Homo sapiens: one gene and its partners. The protein of the gene in region 3 purifies or fractionates together with the protein of the main gene of each other region. This does not show direct contact. Each region holds a gene or a part of one and is shown on either strand. Other genes may lie near its edges.

Region 1 (7,028 bases), on a different chromosome or scaffold from region 3:
GTCGTGAGTTTGAGACCAACCTGGGAAACATGGTGAAACCCCGTCTCTACTAAAAATACAAAAATCAGCGGCGCATGGTGGTGGGCGCCTGTAGTCCCAGCTACTCAGGAAACTGAGGCAAGAGAACTGCTTGAACCCAGGAGGCAGAGGTTGCAGTGAGCTGAGATTGCGCCACTGCACTCCAGTCTGGGTGACAGAGCGAGACTCCATCTCAAAAAAAAAAAAAAAAAAAAGGCAGCATCTGCAAACCAGCAAAAGAGGCCTCTCCTGGAATCAGCACTGACAGCATCTTGCTCTTGGCCTTCAAGCCTCCAGAACTGCGAGAGTGAATTTCTACTGCTCCCCACTCAGTCTGGAGTATTTTGTTATGGCAGCCTAACCAGGCTGATACGCTCCTACATTGCTGGTGGGAATGTATGGCCACTCAAGAAAACAATCTGGCAGTTTTCTAACAAACTAAACACATAATTACCACACATGAACCAGCAACTGCACTCTTAAACATTTATCCCAGAAATGAAAACGTATATTCACACAAAAACCTATACGCAAGTGTCACAGCAGCTTTATCTGTAGTAGCCAAAACAGGAAACAGCCCAGATGTCCTTCCACGGGTGGCTGGCTGGGCAAGCCGTGCACACTCACGCAGAGGAGTCTCACCACGGGAAACAAGCTACTGACACACAATTACCTGAAGAATTCTGCACTTCCCCTTACACTGCATCCTTCGAATGACAAAATCACAGACAGAGCAAAGACTAGAGGTTTCCAGAGGGTAAGGAAATGGCGTGGCTGAGAGGTGGCATGAGGGCTCCCTACGGGGATGGAGACTTCCACAGCCTCACCTGCACCAGGGTTAGCATCCCGACCGTCACCACTGGGGAAACCAGGCAAGGGTCTAAAATAGAAAAGATCTCCATCTTTTCTCACAGCCGCGTGGGAACCTACAATGAACTCAAAATAATACAGTTTATTTAAAAATAATAGTAACGTATAAGACATTAAAGAATGGCATGTCGGGTACCTCCAAGACCCTGTTATATACATTTTACAGCACACACTCTGCCAATTAAGGAACAGGCACAGGCCAGGCACAGTGGCTGACACCTGCAATCCCAGCACTTTGGGAGGCCGAGGTGGGAGAATCACTTGAGCCCAGGAGTTCTGAGAACAGCCTACAGGCAACATAACAAGACTCCATCTCTACCAGAAATAAATTAAAAATTAGCCAGGCGTGGTGGTGCGTGCCTGTGGTCCCAGCTACCTGGGAGGCTGAGGTGGGAGGATCGCTTGAGTCCGGGAGTTCAAGACTGTGGTGAGCTGTGATCATGCCACTGCACTCCAGCCTGGGCAACAAAGCAAGACCTCATCTCAAGGGCAGGGAGTGGAGGGGTGGGGAGTGGAGGCACAGAGACATCAAATGCTCAAGCCAGGTCAAATCTCAAGGCCCAGGTTCCCTGAGGCAGCCTGGCCTGGGACAGCAGAGTGACCACAGCTAAGGCTTGCCTTCTCTTTCTCACATAAATTATATAAATATATAAACATAAGACCTGTATCCAGAGTAAGCAGAAACTCCCTGCCCAATAAAAAATGGACAAAAAGGCCAGGCGCCGTGGCTCATGCCTGTAATCCCAGCACTTTGGGAGGCCAAGGCCGGCGGGTGACCTGAGGTCAGGAGTTTGAGACCAGCCTGACCAACATAGTGACACCCCATTTCTACTAAAAAATACAAAATTAGCTGGGCATGGTGGTGCATGCCTTTAATCCCAGCTAGTTGGGAGGCTGAGGCAGGAGAATTGTTTGAACCTGGGAGGTGGAGCTTGCCGTGAGCCAAGATGGAGCCACTGCACTCCAGCCTGGGCAAGACTCCCTCTCAAAAAAAAAAAAAAAAAAAAATTGCTGAACATCATCATCAGGGAAATTCCAATGAAATCACAATGAGATCGACACCACTGCACACTCACAAGAATGGATGTAATCAAAATGAGAGACCACAAGAAATGCTGGTGAGGAAGTGGAGAGCCAGGAACTCTCCACTGCAGCTGGTGGAAATGTAAAATGGTGCAGCTACCGTGGAAGGAGGTTTGGTTGTTTCATGTGAAGTTCAACCTAAATCCAACCTGTAAATCAGCAATCCTACTCCTTGGTATTTTTTACCCAAGACAAAGAAAAACACACGTCCACAAAAAGACTTGAAAAAAAATGTTCTCGGCACCTTTATTCATAACAGCGGATACGGTTTGGATCTTTATTCATAACAGCGGACACGGTTTGGATCTTTATTCATAACAGCACATACGGTTTGGATCTGCGTCCCCATGCAAATCTCATGTTCACTTGTGACCCTCAATGTTGGAGGAGGGGCCTGGTGGGAGGTGACCGGATTATGGGGCGGAGTTCCCCATGGCGTGGCTGCTCTCAGGATAGTGAGATCTGACTGGGCCATGGGTGTGGAGTTCCTCCCGGGGCTGCTCTCAGGATAGTGAGTGCTCTCCTGTGAGATCTGATTGGGTCGTGGGGGTGGAGTTCCCCCGGGGGGCTGCTCTCAGGATAGTGAGTGCTCTCCTGTGAGATCTGATTGGGTTGTGGTGGTGGAGTTCCCCCAGGGGCTGCTCTCAGGATAGTGAGTGCTCTCCTGTGAGATCTGATTGGGTCATGGGGGTGGAGTTCTGCCCGGGGGCTGCTCTCAGGAGGAGGTTGCCAGGATCTGAGATCACACCCCTGTACTACAGCCTGGGCAACACAACAAGACTCTATCTCAAAAAAATAAGAATAAAAAAATAACAGGCACAGGATATGAATGTGCAATGCCAGAAGGGGAGGCTGAGCAGCAAATAAGCATTACCAAACTCGCTACTCAGAAAGGCACAAATCAAAGCTTGACACTTTTTAAACCCATCAAAATGTCCAAATAAAACAAACCCCCAGGGGACACTCTGAGGACTTGGGACACTAGAGTCTGGTGCCCCCGAGCAGCCTGCAGGCCCCATGAGCAGAGCTGGGCAACCTTCCCCCACACAGCCCACCAGCGTCCATGCAAAGGGCTGAGGACACCTCTCACCAGGATGCGTGTAGGATGCACGGAGCACGCTGGGGACGGGACAGAGTGCCGGGGGACAGTGAGGTCAGTACAGGACCACTACAGGCAGATCTGAGTATCTTTTTTAATCAACTCGGCCTCTTTTAAGAAACAGACACTTTTCTAACGTAAAATACCACATACCAACATTTTCAATACACACATAATTCACAACACTACAGAATGAATCTGTGTCCCCTCCAAAATTCCTGTGTGAAATCCTAATACCCAAGGTGATGGTGTTAGGAGGTGGGGCCTCCTTGGGGGTGACTAGGCCATGAAGGTGGAGCCCTCAGGACTGGGATTACTGCCCCAGAGAGCACTCCCTCACCCCTTCTGCCCTGTGAGGACACAGCGAGAAGGTGCTGGACCTCACCAGACACCAGATCTGCCGGCGCCTTGCGCCTGGACTTCCAGCCTGCAGAGCCGTGAGGAATAAACAAACGTCTGTGGTTTATAGGCCCCCAGTGTACGACGTTCTGTTACAGCAGCACAGACGGACTGGGACACGGGGATGCGCACCCACACAGACAACCATGAGCAATTCACCAGGAGTCCACGGAGTGGAGGAGGAGGAAAGGGGAGTGGCCCAGCCCAACTGTCACCTCCCCCAGTGGTGAGCCCACCCGGGGGTCGTCCCCAACAGTGACCTCCCCGAACGTCTAATTCACCCCAAGGGGGTCCTCCCCCGACAGTGACCTCCCCAAACGTCTAATTCACCCCAGGGGGTCCTCCCTGGACAGTGACCTCCCCGAACGTCTAATTCACCCCAGGGGGTCCTCCCTCGACAGTGACCTCCCCCAATGGTGAGCCCACCCATGGGGTCCTCCCCAAGAGTGACCTCCCTGTATGTTAACAGACAGAAACCACAGAAGTAACACAGGCTTGTTCCTGCCAAGGGTCAGCCGCAGCTGAGCATGAAGTGGTGTTGGCCTGTCACTCTCCGCCCCAACAGCCTCTACTACCTTATATGCTCAGACATCTCCTCCAGGGCACAATGCGCAGAGCAACGGGGGCCAGGACAGGGGCCCTAAGGACACCTCCCTGGGGCTCCCAGCCCCCACTCCACCACTCGACCTCTGGCAAGCAACTAATCTCTGCAAACGTCACTTTTCTCTTCTGCGAGATGGAAGTAATTATAGTACCCACTTTCCAGGGCTACTGTGAGGACCACACAATCCACATAAAGTACTACTGACCATGCTCGGCAAATACGAAGAGCCCCTAAGGGTTGCTGTGGTGGTTCTGACCATTTTTACTTCACGCTGGGAACTAGCCAAAGTGGACAAATGTTGATGATCAAGCTGTCAACTTGGAAGTGAAGGCGGTTGGTACCAGGAGAGCCGCCAGGGGGCAGCTACTCTGTGGCAGAATCTGGGCCTCACAGGCCTGATGACCTAGAACCAACTAACCAAGCCCCAGAGACCCTGCTTACCTGCGCTCCGCACTGCCCCGCACCCCTCCCAGCTCACCTGCGCTCCGCACTGCCCCGCAACCCCCCCCACCCCGCTCACCTGCGCTCCGCACTGCCCCGCACCCCTCCCGGCTCACCAGCGCTCCGCACTGCCCCGCACCCCTCCCCGCTCACCTGCGCTCCGCACTGCCCCGCACCCCTCCCGGCTCACCAGCGCTCCGCACTGCCCCGCACCCCTCCCCGCTCACCTGCGCTCCGCACTGCCCCGCACCCCTTCCCGCTCACCTGCAGTCCGCACTGCCCCGCACCCCTCCCCGCTCACCTGCAGTCCGCACTGCCCCACACCCCTCCCGGCTCACCTGCGCTCCGCACTGCCCCGCACCCCTCCCGGCTCACCTGCAGTCCGCACTGCCCCGCACCCCTCCCGGCTCACCTGCCCTCCGCACTGCCCCACACCCCTCCCGGCTCACCTGCGCTCCGCACTGCCCCGCACCCCTCCCCGCTCACCTGCAGTCCGCACTGCCCCGCACCCCTCCCGGCTCACCTGCAGTCCGCACTGCCCCGCACCCCTCCCCGCTCACCTGCAGTCCGCACTGCCCCGCACCCCTCCCGGCTCACCTGCAGTCCGCACTGCCCCGCACCCCTCCCCGCTCACCTGCAGTCCGCACTGCCCCGCACCCCTCCCGGCTCACCTGCAGTCCGCACCCCTCCCCGCTCACCTGCGGTCCGCACTGCCCCGCACCCCTCCCGGCTCACCTGCAGTCCGCACTGCCCCGCACCCCTCCCGGCTCACCTGCAGTCCGCACTGCCCCGCACCCCTCCCGGCTCACCTGCAGTCCGCACTGCCCCGCACCCCTCCCCGCTCACCTGTAGTCCGCACTGCCCCGCACCCCTCCCCGCTCACCTGCCCTCCGCACTGCCCCGCACCCCTCCCTGCTTACCTGCGCTCTGCACTGCCCCGCACCCCTCCCTGCTTACCTGCGCTCTGCACTGCCCCGCACCCCTCCCTGGGTGAGCGCAGGCCCCGCACCCCTCCCTGGGTGAGCGCAGCCACCGCACTTCAGGCTCTGGGTCCAGGAGAGGTACAAAGAAGCAAGGATGACAGAACCCTGGTGGCTAAGAGAACAGCACAGAGCTGCAGAGGCTGGTGCCCTCAGTCACATGGCCAAGAGAACAGCACGGAGCTTCAGAGGCTGGTGCCCTCAGTCACAAGTCCTATGTGGGAAGAGGGTCGGCTACAAGGCTGGCTCGCCACAGCAACCTAAGGGTCTACTTTTTTTTGAGATAGAGTCTCGCTCTGTCGTCCAGGCTGGAGTGCAGTGGTGCAATCTTAGCTCACTGCAGCCTCCACCTCCCAGGTTCAAGTGATTCTCCTGCCTCAGCCTCCTGAGCAGCTGGGATTACAGGCACGCGCCACCATGCCCAGCTAGTTTTTGTATTTTCAGTAGAGATGGGGTTTTGCCATGTTGGTCAGGCTGGTTTCGAACTCCTGACTTCGGGTGATCTGCCCACCTCGGCCTCCCAAAGTGCTGGGATTACAGGCGTGAGCCGTCGTGCCCGGCCCGGTCTACTTTTAAGATCAGTCTAAGGCTGGGCACATTATCTCATGCCTGTCGTCCCAGCACTCTGGGAGGCCTAGGCCAGGGGGATCACGTAGGCCCAGGAGTTCAAGGCTGCAGTGAGTCGTGATCGCTCCACTGCACTCAACATGGGCGACAGAGCCAGACTCTTTTCAATAAAAGAAAATGATCTCAAGTGTACCCTGCGGAGGACACATGGGGCCAGCATGCGGCCTCCCCTGCCACTGAGCCCACCTTGGAGACATGGGGCCTTCCTGCCACTGAGCCCACCTGGGAGGGTTTCTGAAACTTGCAACCAAGAGTCTTGCTTGTACCACATGATTCTGCAACTGTCAGTCAGTACCAAATATTCACAGTGCCCTCACCCAGTCCAGAACATTCTTTTTTCTTTTCTTTTTTTTTTGGTGAGACGGAGATTTACTCTTGTTGCCCAGGCTGGAGTGCAATGGCGTGATCTTGGCTCACCGCATCCTCCACCTCCCAGGTTCAAGCGATTCTCCTGCCTCAGCCTCCTGAGTAGCTGGGACTACAGGCATGTGTCACCACACCCGGCTAATTTTGTATTTTTAGTAGAGACGGGTTTCCCCGTGTTGCCCAGGCTGATCTCGAACTCCCGATCTCAGGTAATCCACCCGCCTCGGCCTCCCAAAGTGCTGGGATCACAGGCGTGAGCCACTGCGCCCGGCCCAGAACATTCTAAGTAAGTGAAGGGAGGAAGCCTCCAAAAGCCATGTCAAGGAGGAAGAAGGGTGGAGAGTCAGGACCACACACAAGTGGCCCTGGGGGTGGGAGTAGGCTGTGCCCTCCCCATTCCTTAGGCCAGAGCTTGACCCCCAAGGCTCCTGAGCGGGCCCAGCCACTCAGCTAACACTGCGCATGGCACACAAGGGCTGCGGGCTGGCTCAAATTACATACAACACCCAACCAAACGCACGAGGCGGGTTACGCTTAAACC
Region 2 (7,028 bases), on a different chromosome or scaffold from region 3:
TATTTCATAAGGCTATAGCTACCATAGACAGTGATTCCTCTGATGGATCTGGGCAAAGTAAATTGAAAACCTTCTGGAAAGGATTCATCATTCTAGATGCCATTAAGAACATTTGTGATTCATGGGAGATCAAAGTATCAACATGAATAGGAGTTTGAAAGATGATTCCAGCCCTCACAGATGACTTTGAGGGATTCCAGACTTCAATGGAGGAAATAACTGCCGATGTGGTGGAAACAGTAAGAGAACTAGAATTAGAAGGGGAGTCTGAAGATGTGACTCAATTCCTGCAATCTCATAAGAAAACTTTAACTAATGAGAAGTTGTTTCTTATGGACGGGAAAAGAACGTGGTTTCTTGAGATGGAATCTACTCCTGGTGAAGATGCTATGAACACTGTCAAAATGACAACAAAGGATTTAAAATATGACAGAAGCTTAATTGATAAAGCAGGGTTTGAGAGGACTGACTCCAATTTTGAAAGAAGTCATACTGTGGGTAAAATGCTATCAAATAGCATCATGTGCTATAGAGACATCTTTTATGAAAGGGAGAGTCAACTAATGCAGCAAACTTCATTATTATCTTATGAAATTGCGATAGCCACCCCAACCTTCAGTAACTACTACCCTGATTGGTCAGCACCCATCAACATCGTGGCAAGACCCTCTACCAGCAAAAAGACTATGACTTGCTGAAAGCTGAGATGATTGTTAGCATTTTTTAGCAATAAATATTTTTAATTAAGGTATGTATGTTTTTTAGACAATTCTATTACACATTTTATAGACTACAGTATAGTATAAACACAGCTTTTTTTTTTTTTTTTTTTTTTTTTTAAGAAATGGGGTCTCATGCTGTCATCCAGGCTGGAGTGCAGTGGTGCAATCATGACTCACTGCAGCCTCAAACTCCTGAGCTCAAGTGATCCTCCCAAGTAGCTGGGACTACAGGCCTGTGACATCACACCCGGCCAAAACGCATAACTTTTATATGCAATGGGAAACAAAAAAATGTGTGTGACTCACTCTATTGTGATATTCAGTTTACTGCAGTGATATGGAACTAAGCCCACAATATCCCTGCGGTATGGCTGTACAGTATAAGAATCACCTGAAGGGCTTATTAAAAACAGCTTGCTTGACCCCCTCCCTTAGAGATTCCGATTCAGTAGATCTGGGTTGGTCAAGAATTTGCCTTTCTAACAAGCTCCCAGCTGAGGCTGAGGCTGCCATTCAACATACTACCAAGTAGCACTGGCATAGAGAGATCCCTGGAATAAAATGTACCTACTTGTGTGTGTGTGTGTATGAATGTGTGTGTGTGTGTGTGTGTGCGCATGTGCATGTGCGTGTGTGTGTGTGTGTACAGTCTTGCTCTGTTGCCTGGGCTGGAGTGCAGTGGCGTGATCTCGGCTCACCGCAACCTCCGCCTCCCAGCTTTCAAGCGATTCTCCTGCCTTAGCCTCCTGAGTAGCTGGGATTATGGGGTGCGCCACATCGCCTGGCTAGTTTTTGAATTTTCAGTAGAGACTGGATTTCACCATGTTGGCTAGGCTGGTCTTGAACTCCTGGCCTCAAGGGATCCACCTGCCTCAGCCTCCCAAAGTGCTGGGATTACAGGCATGAGCCACCATGCCCAGCCCCTACTTGTATATCACAAAAGTGAGATGATTACTTTTCAACTTTCTTCTTTGTATTTTTTAGGTATTTAAATTTTTTTACAATGAATGTTCCATCTTTACCCAAACAATAAAATCTTTATTGTAAAGAAAGTTAGAAGCAAGAAACATTAACATTTTTTATAACTACAATTTGTATAAAAGCTTTCTCTGTGATCTTTAGTTTTTCTTTCTTCCTCTGAAAAGCTGAATCGTGTTTAATTAAACTCTCAAAAGTATCAAGTTTTTGTCTATAAAATGGCAAAACTGGCTATGATGAAATAAACTGATATTTGCTATTTCTAATAAAAGCATACAATATATTTTTCTTTCTTACCAGATTCAAATATTTAACACCAACATATTAGTCCAAGTCCTATCATCAGTCAGATTTATCAGAAAGGTATGAAAACCCATGCCTACTATAAGGACCAAAATAGCCTAATTCAATACTACTTTGAAAACATGGGGATGATGTTATTATGTAATTGTTTTAAGTACAATAACCACTGATCACATTTGAACTCTCAGGATACTTCAATATTTCTTTTGGACAACTATGACCTGTTGAGTAAATTACCCCCAAATACTTTAATATAGTTTTACAAATCGCCCCAATGCCAGAGACCCAGATCAAAAAAAAAAATAATGGTATGGGTCAGATTCACAGAATAAGCACTAACTTTTATGCAAAATGAAAATAAAGATTTTATCTAAAAGTTATTTGGGGAAAATAAGCAGACTTTATCAAGAATTAGAGCTTGGTAAGAAGGTAACAGAAACCCATTGTTAGAAACAGGTTGACTCTGTGTAGCTTTCCATAGTAGAGTTCAGAGTTTCCTGTCATGATTCCCTTATCAATGCAGTGTAATAACTACTTACACAGCACTTACATTGTATTAGGTATTATAAGTAATCTACAGATGATTTAAAGTATATGGGAGGATGTGCATAGCTTATAGGCAAATACTACACCATTTTATGTAAGGGACTTGAACATTAATAGATTTTGGTATCCTCAGAGATTCCGGAACTAATACCCCATGGATGCCAAGGGACAACTGTACTTAGAGGTAGAACGTCTCTGCTCTTCCTACATGTCCTTATTTTTAACAACTTCTGTTCTTACAAATAATCCTAAGTCAATCAATAAAACTTCAAATTCTATTAACAGCTTAAAAGTACCAAGAAATACTCTGTTCATTCATTCAACTGCCAAAGAAAATGACAACCGAGTACTTTTCCTCTTTTAAACCAAAAAAAGTTTTTGGTTTAATACTAACAAAAGCTTTAATCCTCATTTTAGATATTCCTCTAATACATCTATTTACAATATATCACAGAACTATATTCTGGTTATTAATAATCTCACTTCTTACCAGGGTCTGCTAATCCAGTGGTCTCTAACAGTATGTAATCAAATTTCCCCTTCTTTTGCATCAAATTCTCAATAGCTCTAAGGCCACTGTCCCTGGAGAATACCAAAACATAATTTACAGTTAATTACCTAAATATTTTGAAGTGATTATTATAAACACTTTAAAATATATTCAACAACCCGAGACAAAAGTACCCTTGGGAATGTGAAAATTTAACTCACTTCTAACCTTCTAACAAAATGTCCGTCCCATATTTACCAGTGAGAAAACAATAGATGCATATATATAATAGGTAAAAAGAAATCATATACATAATACTTTATCAAAATTAAAAGCAGAGGAAACTTTATCTGACCAAGTATCTTTTTATAGCTTTATGAAATTTTTAAAAACCAACATACAAAATAATGATAAAATGTATTAACTATAGTAGTTTAATATAATAGCTAAAGAGACACTGATATTAAACACCATATAATTCTATTTTACATTAGGATGCAAGGTTTTAATTTCCTTTTTTCTTATTTTATCAAAAGTGAAGGAAAATCCTTAATAGATTATATTTTGGTTGTTCAAGAAAGTCTGTTATAATTTTATCCTTGCCAAAACATTTGACACAAAGTCAAATACCTAAGGGAGTAAATGATGCCGAAGAGATTTAATTCACTAGAATACACAAAATTAACAGTACAAGTAGTCATTTTTATAATTCATTCAACAAATATTTGAGTGCTACTATGTGTTGGGTAACTCTTCTAGGGTCTATGGTAGACTAGTGAACACTGTCCTTGAAAACTTAACTAGTAGAACATAACGTAAGGTTTTTCTCTTTTTTGATAGTCATTTATTTTTTTTATAAGATTGAACACTTAGAAGTATGACCAATGACAGATTAAATTCAGAATAATCATTTTTTACATATGAGACTTTCATGCACTAGAGATTAAATAAGCCCTGACATCAAAAGCAATAAAAACTCAATAAAAGGACCAAAACATTAGAGCAGATAGAAAAGACAGCAAGAAACACTTTAAGAAAATGCTTCCTAATAAGTTTATTTTCTATTTGTTTGAAAATACAATGAAGCAAACTGTGTAAATTCAGTTAAATTACTCAAGAAAATTAAAGCTGGAAATATAATCAATAAACATTTCTAGTAAACCATGTACACAGTAAACACATTCCTCACTTCACTGAACAGCAGAGGCAACCGTTTCTAAGTTCCAGCCACTCTTCATAGAGCTCTCCACCTTGGCTGACAGCTAAGGATTTCTCCAGCGCACTTCCTAGAATAATTAACAAACAGCACTCTTTAGCTTATGTCCATTAGCCAAAAAAAAACAAAGATGAGGATAACTCAATAATGGAGATCTTAAAGCAGAAACTGCATTTTATAACTTATATTCTTTCATTTTATTCATGCAGCCTCGATATCTAAATTACAGTACACTACATTATTTTAGCTTTTATTTAAGATGACTTAAGCCCTGAAAAAGACACATCCTAAACTGATAAACATACCTACTTCCTCCTTAGGCCTCTTACTTGGCCACCCCCATTTCTTAATAAAGTAGCTATCTTGAAGGCATTTTTTTCTTGTCCAGGGTAAACTTTCTAAATAGACCAGTATGTTTTATATACTGGATTTTGTATGCCCTTCAACCTCTTAAGAGACTGCCTTATCTATCTTTTTCTTTTCATTCTTCTTCTAAATTGTTTCTGTTAGACAAACTGCTGAATATTCCCAATGAGTAAAAACCCTAGTTCATCTTGAGGAAGGTTTTTGGCCAGTGTACCACGTGCTCATTTAAAAATTAAACTTATAGGGAGGCCAAGGCGGGCGGATCACGAGGTCAGGAGACCGAGACCATCCTCGCTAACACAATGAAACCTCATCTCTACTAAAATTACAAAAAATTAGCCAGGTGTGGTAGCGGGTGCCTGTAGTCCCAGCTACTCAGGCGGCTGAGGCAGGAGAATGGCGTGAACCCGGGAGGCGGAGGTTGCAGTGACCCGAGACTGCGCCACTGCACTCCAGCCTGGGCAACACAGCGAGACTCCATCTCAAAAAAAAAAAAAAACCTAAACTTTTAGTCAAATTCACATATTTTCCTAGCAATACTTACTTAAGAAAGAATAAACTACATTTGAAATGCTTGTTATCTATAAGAATTATTTTAAATGTTTTACTTTTCCTCTAATAAAGAAATATACCAAACAGTGAAGTTCTAAAAGCCCACTAAGCAAATGAGCTCCCATAAAATCGAGTAGTTTTACACTTACATATTTTTTATATTTCAGCTAGGTATTAATAAAGAGCTTCTAAAGAGGTTGCTACAGAATTTGGACTATATACAGAACATTAATGAAACATGAAGAAAAGTATTGAGAATGCTGTGAAAAATAAAATTGCAAAAATGATCCAGGAAAAAATAAAGAAAATAGTAAGAATAAATGTAATCAGTGTGCAATAGGTTATTTAATAAGATGATGAAAAAAACAGTCTGTTATTAGAAATCTCAGGATTTTTGCCTAAAAAGCACTTTTCTCTTTCGTTTATTAAAACCAGAAATCGAATATAACTGGCTTCCCATCCTGTTCATAAAACCTAGCTCTTTTACTTTTTACAACTGAAAAAAAATAGTACATTTTAAAAGAAATCGTTTAATAGATATTGTTTTTTGGCTAGAAGTAAGCTTTGATTACAATTCATACTTATGAAGAAAAACTTCTATAAAGATAACAGAAGTATTGTGTCTAGAGCTATTTTTTTGACTACAGTTTAATATTTCAGTTGAGAAGTTAAGCACACTTATTTTCACAGATAACTTAAAATACATGAGGATAAAGACCATATGTTTACCTTTATTTTTAAAATATTGAGTTTTAACTGCATTGCAGATAATAAACATTAAACAAAGTTAACTAATAACAGAAGCATTTTCAAGTATTTTTCATGAGTTGCAATAGAGTCCATACAAAAGTGCTTTCCTAATTCCTAAAAAAAACATTTTTTCGCCAGGCATGGTGCCTCATGCCTGTAATCCCAGCAACTTTGGGAGGCCGAGGCGGGTGGATCACAAGGCCAGGAGCTCAAGACCATCCTGGCCAACATGGCGAAACCCTGTCTCTACTAAAAATACAAAAATTATCTGGGCATGGTGGCGCACGCCTGTAGTCCCAGCTACTCAGGAGGCTGAGGCAGGAGAATCACTTTAACCCAGGAGACAGAGGTGGCAGTGAGCTGAGATTGCACCACTGCACTCCAGCCTGGCGACAGAGAGAGACTCCATCTCAAAAAAAATAAAATAAAATAAAAAATAAACGTTTTTTCATATGTCTAGATTTTTACTTCTGGAGTCATTTATTTCATGTAAAAATGTAGTTTAATTCTGTTAATAAGAATTCCAAAGTTATACAAAATAAAATTTTATTAAAACTAATTTCAGTATCTCAACCCATATAAATCTTAACAGAAATTAATCCAACTTTTCTAAAGCTATCCACATCAATACAATACCTTGCATTTTCATTTTTAAATATGGAATATCAATTCACCAGAGGAATAAACAGTCACACAAAATCTTGCAACATGACATTTATTGAACTTTACTTACCTTCCCCAAATTCATTTAAAATGACCGCTACTCTTTTACTATGTTGCTCTGTCAAAATATAGTTCAGAAGTGTTGTCTTCCCAGCACCTATAAAACATATTTTTTGTAAATAAAAAAATTCAAAATAATTTTAAAGATACAAAAAACATATAAAGAATCCTAACGTTTTTGAGAATTTGCGTGCTATTTTTCATATATTATTTTAGCATAGAATATCCTAGAGGATAAGATTAAAGCATCCTTCGAAACCTGTTGCAAAATACTTTATGTAGACATAAAATTTTATAAATATTTACAAACACTCCTACAAGTTGAAACAGCTTCTTCAACCTAGCCTAACCTTCCCTAAAATTTACACACAATCTTTTATTT
Region 3 (7,028 bases):
TCTATCCAAAAACGCCAAGGAAAACCTGATTTCTTAAGAAAGTAACTTCAATTACTATAAGATTCTCAATTTATGATTTAAGTATTTCTCTAGATATGTTTTATATCATACTGAACAATGCAAATTACCAACATATCTTTCAACCCAATTTCAACATTTTACCATATTTCTCATATTTTAGAAAAGATCAAACCTAAGTAATTTTTTAAATGTAGTCTTCACCAAAGATAAAATTAGAATCAAATGCAATAATATAGAAGAGAAATACTACAATGGGCACTGGAGATCATGACAAAAGAACTCAGGAACTTTGAAGTGTAGGAGTAGAGGTGATACTCAAGATATTTAGCTATTTAACAACTGGCAGGGCATAAGGACCATCTAGTCAGAATAGACGCTTGCTGTAGCAATGGGTCCAGAAACACTGGTAGAGTGTATTGGTAGATACCACCTGAGCATTGCTACCAGTTGATAGTAATGTTCAAATGCTATTGATTTTGTTTTCAGAAAAACTTTGCAATAACTAACCAGAAGCATCTCAATCTAGTTTCTCCATTTTGTCCCACATTCAACCTCTATCAATTACAGAGGAATGCATTTTCTGGTTGTACTCTAATACCCTGAGGACTGCAGTCATGTTAGATATACACTGGTGAATAATCTGCACATTATCTTGGGTAAATACATGCAAATATACACCTGTTAAAAAAACTGACTTCTCTGCACAAGCATATATCATGAGGCTCCAGTATGGAATTGAAATGAGTTAAAATGACTACATTATTGCAGGATTGATGTTAACACCACTCTCACACAGCTACCTCACATTTTTAATCTTCATTTACATGTTTTGATTTCACATACATTATTTCTTTTTTATTCTTTTCCTTTATCTTTCTTTCTCCTCTTTTCCCCCTCTCTCTCCTCTCCTTCTCTCTCTGTCTCTCGATCTCTCTCTCTCTCTCTCTCTCTCTCCAGGATCTCATCTGTTTGAGGATGCAGGAGTACAAATGCAGGGGTACAAATGCAGGGGTATGACCTTGGCCTCAACTGTTTCCGGGATGCAGGGGTACAAATGCAGGGGTACGACCTTGACTTCCTGGACTCCAGTGATTCACTTCAGTTTCTTGAGTAGCTGGGGCCACAGGTCACCACAACTAGCTAATTTTTTCTTTTTTTCATTTTAGTAGGGATGAAGTCTCACTATATTGCCCAGGCTGGTCTCAACCCCTGGATTCAAGCAGTTTGCCTGCCTCAGAATCCCAAAATGCTGGGATTACAGGCATAAGCCACCATGCCCAGCCTGATACATTATTTCTTATTTCCTTTTGATATTAATTCAGAAAACGTGAAAATCTACTATTTTCTAAATAAGGTATAAAAAGCAAACAGTGTAGAAAAGAAGACAGAAACAGAACCACCTATTATAGTCCCCTGGAAATAATGTCATAACACAGGTATTCTCAAAATGGTCTGGAATCACAGAGATTTCCCAGTAGAGTACATGTTCCATTTCATCTTCAAAGACAACCAGGAGTTAAACAAGAGAATAAAGAAAGAATGCAAAGAATTCCATCCTTGAAAAATGTACTTGCATAAAAATATAGTTCACTAGAGACTGGAAGACAAGATAAAATAAAAAATGATGGCCGGTAGTCCCAGCCACTCGGGGAGGCTGAGGCAGGAGAATCGTCTGAATCCATGAGGTGGAGGTTGCAGTGAGCTAAGACTGTGCCACTCCCCTCCAGCCTGGGTGACAGAGGGAGACTCCATGTCAAAAACACCAAAAAATCTGATTAAGGAGCTAATTAAATACTAAAGAGTATGAACATTGATCCCATGAAATGCCATAGAATTGTGCTACCCAATAGAACTTTCTGCAGTGATGGACATATTCTGCATTGTTCTGTCCAATACAGTTGCCACTAACAACATGTGATTATTTAGCCCTCAAAATGTGGCTAGTTGGCGGGTGAAGTGGCTCACACCTGTAATCCCAGCACTTTAGGAGGCCAAGGCAGGCAGATCACTTGAGCTCAAGAGTTCGAGACCAGCTTAGGCAACATGGCAAAACCAAATTTCTATAAAAAATACAATAAATAGCTGGGTGTGGTGGCGTGCGCCTGTAGTCCCACCTACTTGGGAGGCTGAGGTGGGAGGATGGCTTGAGCCCGGGAGGCAGAGGTTGCAGTGAGCTGAGCCAGACCTTGTCTCTAAATAAATAAAAGAAATGCAGCTAGTATATCTAATGGACTGGAATTTTACATTTTATTTTTCATTAACTTTGTTTGAGACAAGGTCTTGCTCTGTCATGAAAGGTGGAGTGCAGTAGTGTGATCATCACACACTGCAGTCTTAATATCCTAGGTTTGAGTGATCCTCCCACTTCAGCCTCCCAAACAGCTGGAACTTACAGGCCTGCACTGCTATACCCAGTATGTGTATATACATATATATTACACACACACATATATATACACACACACATATACCCCCTACACATGTGTGTGAATATTATACACACACACACACACACATATATATATATAAATATAATAAGCAGGATCTCACTATATTGCCCAAGCTGGTCTCAAACTCCTGGACTCAAGAGATCCTCCCACCTTGGCCTCCCAAAGTGCTGGGATTACAAACGTAAGCCACTGTGCCCAGGTAACATAAGTTTTTAAATAGCCACCTGTACCTACTGGCTACCATATTGGACAGTGTAGCAATAAAGGATTATAAGCACACACATAGTATGATAGATTTACATCTCAGAGGGAACACCATCTGTTCAGTGTTGAAGGTAAATTGAAAGAGAGACAGGTGAAGTGGAGAAAAGTTAGAAACAATAGCACAATAATCTAGTGATGTGAACCTAAACTAATGTAAGGTCAATTGAGCTCATAAAGCAGCAATATAGTCAAGAAATATTTAGCAATTGAAATTGGATGACTGTATGTGAATGGTAAGCAAAAGAGAGACATGGGATGACTTAGGTTTCTAGTTTGAGAAACTGTGTAGATGATGGTGTTATTCTCCTTATAAAGAGAGTACAGCAAGATTTGTCCAGGGATAAAAATACTGTTTCAAGCTTAAACTTGAAAACAAGTCTGAATCATCTATCCCGTAAGAAGTTGGCTGGCTATACATGTCTGTAACTCAGAAAGTAATTAACAGCTTAGAGGTGGCCATTAAGGAAATGAATTTTGGATGGATCACCCAGGGAACATGGACAGTGAAAGCAGGGCCCAGAAAACACTGTCAGTTGGGAGGTGAAAGTCATTCTCTTCCACAAAAATTCAATGCATCTCGTTGTATTCTAGGAATCAGATTGGGCCTTTAGGGACCAAAGATGAGTAAGACAGAGGCCCTGCTCTCCAGACATTAGCTTGTAGAAGAGTCCTAATTAGGAAGAAGAGTTCATGGAATAAGAAATTCATGAAGAAGCTAGGCAAGAAATACTCAAGGAGGTAAGAAGAAAATCAGAAGAGATGTCTCAGAAGTCAAAGTAAGAACCAGTGCACTGAGTGCTACAGAAAAGGGGAAAATATCCATGAAACTGAGACAATGTGCTTATTAACCATCTTCTGCATGAGTAATTCTAGAGTGGTAGAATTAGAAGCCAGACTACAAAAAGCATAAGAGAGAATGAAAGGCATGGAAATGGGAACATTTCAATGGAAAATCTCTCTCCTGTCCTATGACAAGAGCTTTATTTAGATTCCCTCCTTAATGTCTTCTTAGGTATCTTCCTTTCCCATATCTTCAATATTTCCTTCTGTACTTGCTCTTTCCCCACTAATGGCATTTAAACAAGACTGGATAGTTCATTCTTAAATGGACCCCTTTCTACAGCTCTCATCCAATACTTCTCCCTGCCTGCACAGTTAAGAGTGAAATGAAATATATCCAAGCAGAAAAGGTCAACTGAAAATAGATTCAGTTACAGGGCAAGTTTGTAAAAGATTTATGCTGATTAGAGATAAATATTTAGTCTTCTACAAAAATATAATAGTTTTTGTTATGTTATGAAGTGGCTTTTCAGATGGCTTTGTCTAACAGGAATGATATTTAAGAGCAGCCTTCTCCAAATAGCTTCAGCTCTTGCTGCCACATTCCCAAAAGTTTAGTTTATTACCACAAAAAGCAGTGGTACTCCTTCACTAGATAAGCTCCTTGAACACAAATATGATGTCTTTATTATCTTTGAAGCCCTAATATTCAGAAGTTTGAGAGATATAACAGTCATTCAAATTTATCAGAAACAGATTTGTGTGGGCTTAAAGGTGGCCCATATGATAACTTGTCAAACTACTTTACATAGTCCACATTCAGCATTGTCCTACAAATCTCCTGAGCCAGGGTGTCATACAAGCAAATGGCTATTGATGTGGTGAAGCAAAGATCTCCTCAGCTCTTGAGATCACTAGGCAGTGTCTAAGGTGGATAGTATCAGGGCAGGTAGTCTCATACATTTACCCCGTATAGATATCAATGTCTATATGTGGCATTACATGAGCAAGCATTGCTCTGGCCTCAACGCCCCCAACAAACTAGTACATCTCCACTTTTACCTCCCAGAACTGCACACATAACAAATATCACTTAAAAACAGAGCATTCTATTATCACTTCACTTATGATATGATAATCATATCAGGGATTATGATCCCTGACATATCAGTTATGTCATCATCTTGGTATTTTGGCACTTGACCACATAGCAAACTAACTTGACACTTTAAAATATTTTAGGTGTATGAGTAAACATTTTGTGAAGGGAAGTTTCACCTTTGCAAAAAAATATTCATTACTTGCGAACTAGTACTTGTTAAATACATTTCCAAGTTTCTGGGTCTCTTTATATAGAAAACATTTGATATACACTGACTAGCTAAATAAATAATGGCAAACCAGGACAATTTACACATGTTAGGAAAACTCCACTTTCCAAGGAGATATGAACAATTATAATGGAAGTTCCATGAATGCAGGGACTTTCCTTGTGCACTACTAACCCTCATCACAGAGCTTAGTAATGGCACCCAATAGGTGGTAAATAATATTTACTGAATTAGTGACAGTCACTAAATACATAAATGGTTAAATAGTCAAAAGTACTCCTGGTTTTGCTTAAATTAAGTGATTTCTATGGATGTTTTATAATTTTGTAAATAGGGCTGGTACCACAAGACTTCTAGGAGAAAAAGAAAACAACTCATATTCTTAAGTAACCAGACAAAAGAGAAATGGTGATTAAAGTCACATGCATAAATCATTAGTGACTTGCTCCACTAAGGTGGAAATATGTGTGACCATATTAACAGACGTTTCTTTAAAATATTACCATTCCCTGACTATGTGTAGTAAATCAGGAAAATCTTTGGATGAGGGAAGGAATGCAGGGAGTTGAGGTAGGAAACAAAATTATTTCACCTTGGCACAAATATGATGATCAATAAATGTTAACTCACTTTTCAAAAAGGTAAAATTTGGAGGTTTAACATCCAACAAAATCATGTGTTTTAAACAGAAAGGCACTGGGCATATACTATCCACTTTATTTTTCTCCATAAATAAGCTAGCCATCTTTATGTGCAATATCGCTTTAAATTGGTTACTTTAAATGATCACAGGAAGCAGCATGATGGTTGAACATGTTAGGTAAGTTCCAGCAGAGCTGGGTTTGGGCAGGTCCTGTATGTGCACGCTTGGGCAAGTTATTTAAACTTGCTCAGCCTAAATTTCCTCAGTAAGAATGATATTACCTACTTTGAAGGTTTTTGCAAGAATTTCAAAATGCACATAAAGTATGCGGTATTATATCTGACACATAAATTATCAATTAACTATCAGCTATTAGGATGATAAGTAAAAGCTCAAAAATAATCTTTCAGTTACAAAGTATGGTTCTTTGAAAAAACCTAACGTTGTGTCTTAGCGTATAGGGTTGGGTAAGCATTCAAATTAAATTAATATTCTTTATTTCCTATATAATATGTATTAATAGGATCTGCATTTTAATGCCTTTTCATAGCATCCTTTATGTACTTATCTATGTGATTATTTGGTTAATGCCCCTCTGCTCCTCTAGTATATAAGTGTTATAGAAGCAGAAATGTTTGTTTTGCTCAAAACTGTATCCCCAGTGCCCAGTACTGGTCAGTTGAATAAATATTGACTGCTTAAATAAAGGCTATCATAATAAATTTCATGCTCATCTCCACTATATGAGCATGAGCACCATATTTTCTTGAAATTGGAAGAGACTTGCTAAAGAGCATAGAGATTTTTTTTAAAAAAAGTAGAGGGTTAAACTTTTAAGCATCGATTTCCTTCCAATATACCAAATTGAATAAAAAACGAAAAACCAACGACATGGCATGAAAAAGGAAATAATTCCCTGCTTTTAAGGCAAGAATCATTATTCAGCTATGACAAAAATTGCTTTATATAATTACCATACGTGCTAAAACCAACAACCATCTACAGTGATTTCCCCCCACCCCCGCTCCCTGGCCTTATACATTTTACTGTGGAGAGAATGTCCTACTGAGAGGAAGGAAATAAAAGTATTAATTGAGATCTTCGCAGTTCTTTGTTCCGTCAGTAAACAGCAATTATCCTTAAATTTCCAAATCCTTACCACCTACCTGTTCAGCAATATAATACATGAAGAGTGCTCATCCATTAGGCAACTGCTTATTCAGTGCCCATCATATATTGCACATGATGTTTAGCACTGAGGATATAGGGGAGAATAAGACAGAAAAGTCTCTTTTCATAGAGATTAAGTGTTCATTTTAGGCAATCTACTTTGTCCCTACCGTGTTCCTTGCATATATATATATACACTTACATATATATATATATGTTTTGTATTTCTACAGTGAGAACCTGACTGTTCTTTGGAATGTTTCCAGACTCAAAAAGGAAGTTATTATTACCTACATATTCATTATAAATGAATTAGATAAAAACAAAACTATTTGAAAGTCTCATGTAGTTCAATGTAATAAAATTTTA

Evidence for each region. The genes of interacting proteins can lie anywhere in the genome.
Region 1: the proteins of FAM174A (region 3) and GAK purify together in Homo sapiens (co-immunoprecipitation; 3 studies listed by BioGRID and IntAct, with this or other methods). This does not show direct contact.
Region 2: the proteins of FAM174A (region 3) and ZNG1A purify together in Homo sapiens (affinity purification with mass spectrometry; 2 studies listed by BioGRID and IntAct, with this or other methods). This does not show direct contact.

The regions. Positions count from the first base shown.
Region 1 is NC_000004.12:922,302-929,329, forward strand, and holds part of GAK (cyclin-G-associated kinase), read right to left. Parts: intron 1-7,028. UniProt on the Homo sapiens protein: Associates with cyclin G and CDK5. Seems to act as an auxilin homolog that is involved in the uncoating of clathrin-coated vesicles by Hsc70 in non-neuronal cells. Expression oscillates slightly during the cell cycle, peaking at G1.
Region 2 is NC_000009.12:169,042-176,069, forward strand, and holds part of ZNG1A (zinc-regulated GTPase metalloprotein activator 1A), read right to left. Parts: intron 6,744-7,028; coding exon 6,657-6,743; intron 4,326-6,656; coding exon 4,229-4,325; coding exon of another isoform or gene 4,225-4,228; exon of another isoform or gene 3,448-4,224; intron 3,132-3,447; coding exon 3,040-3,131; intron 1-3,039. UniProt on the Homo sapiens protein: Zinc chaperone that directly transfers zinc cofactor to target metalloproteins, thereby activating them.
Region 3 is NC_000005.10:100,538,356-100,545,383, reverse strand, and holds part of FAM174A (membrane protein FAM174A precursor), read right to left. Parts: intron 1-7,028.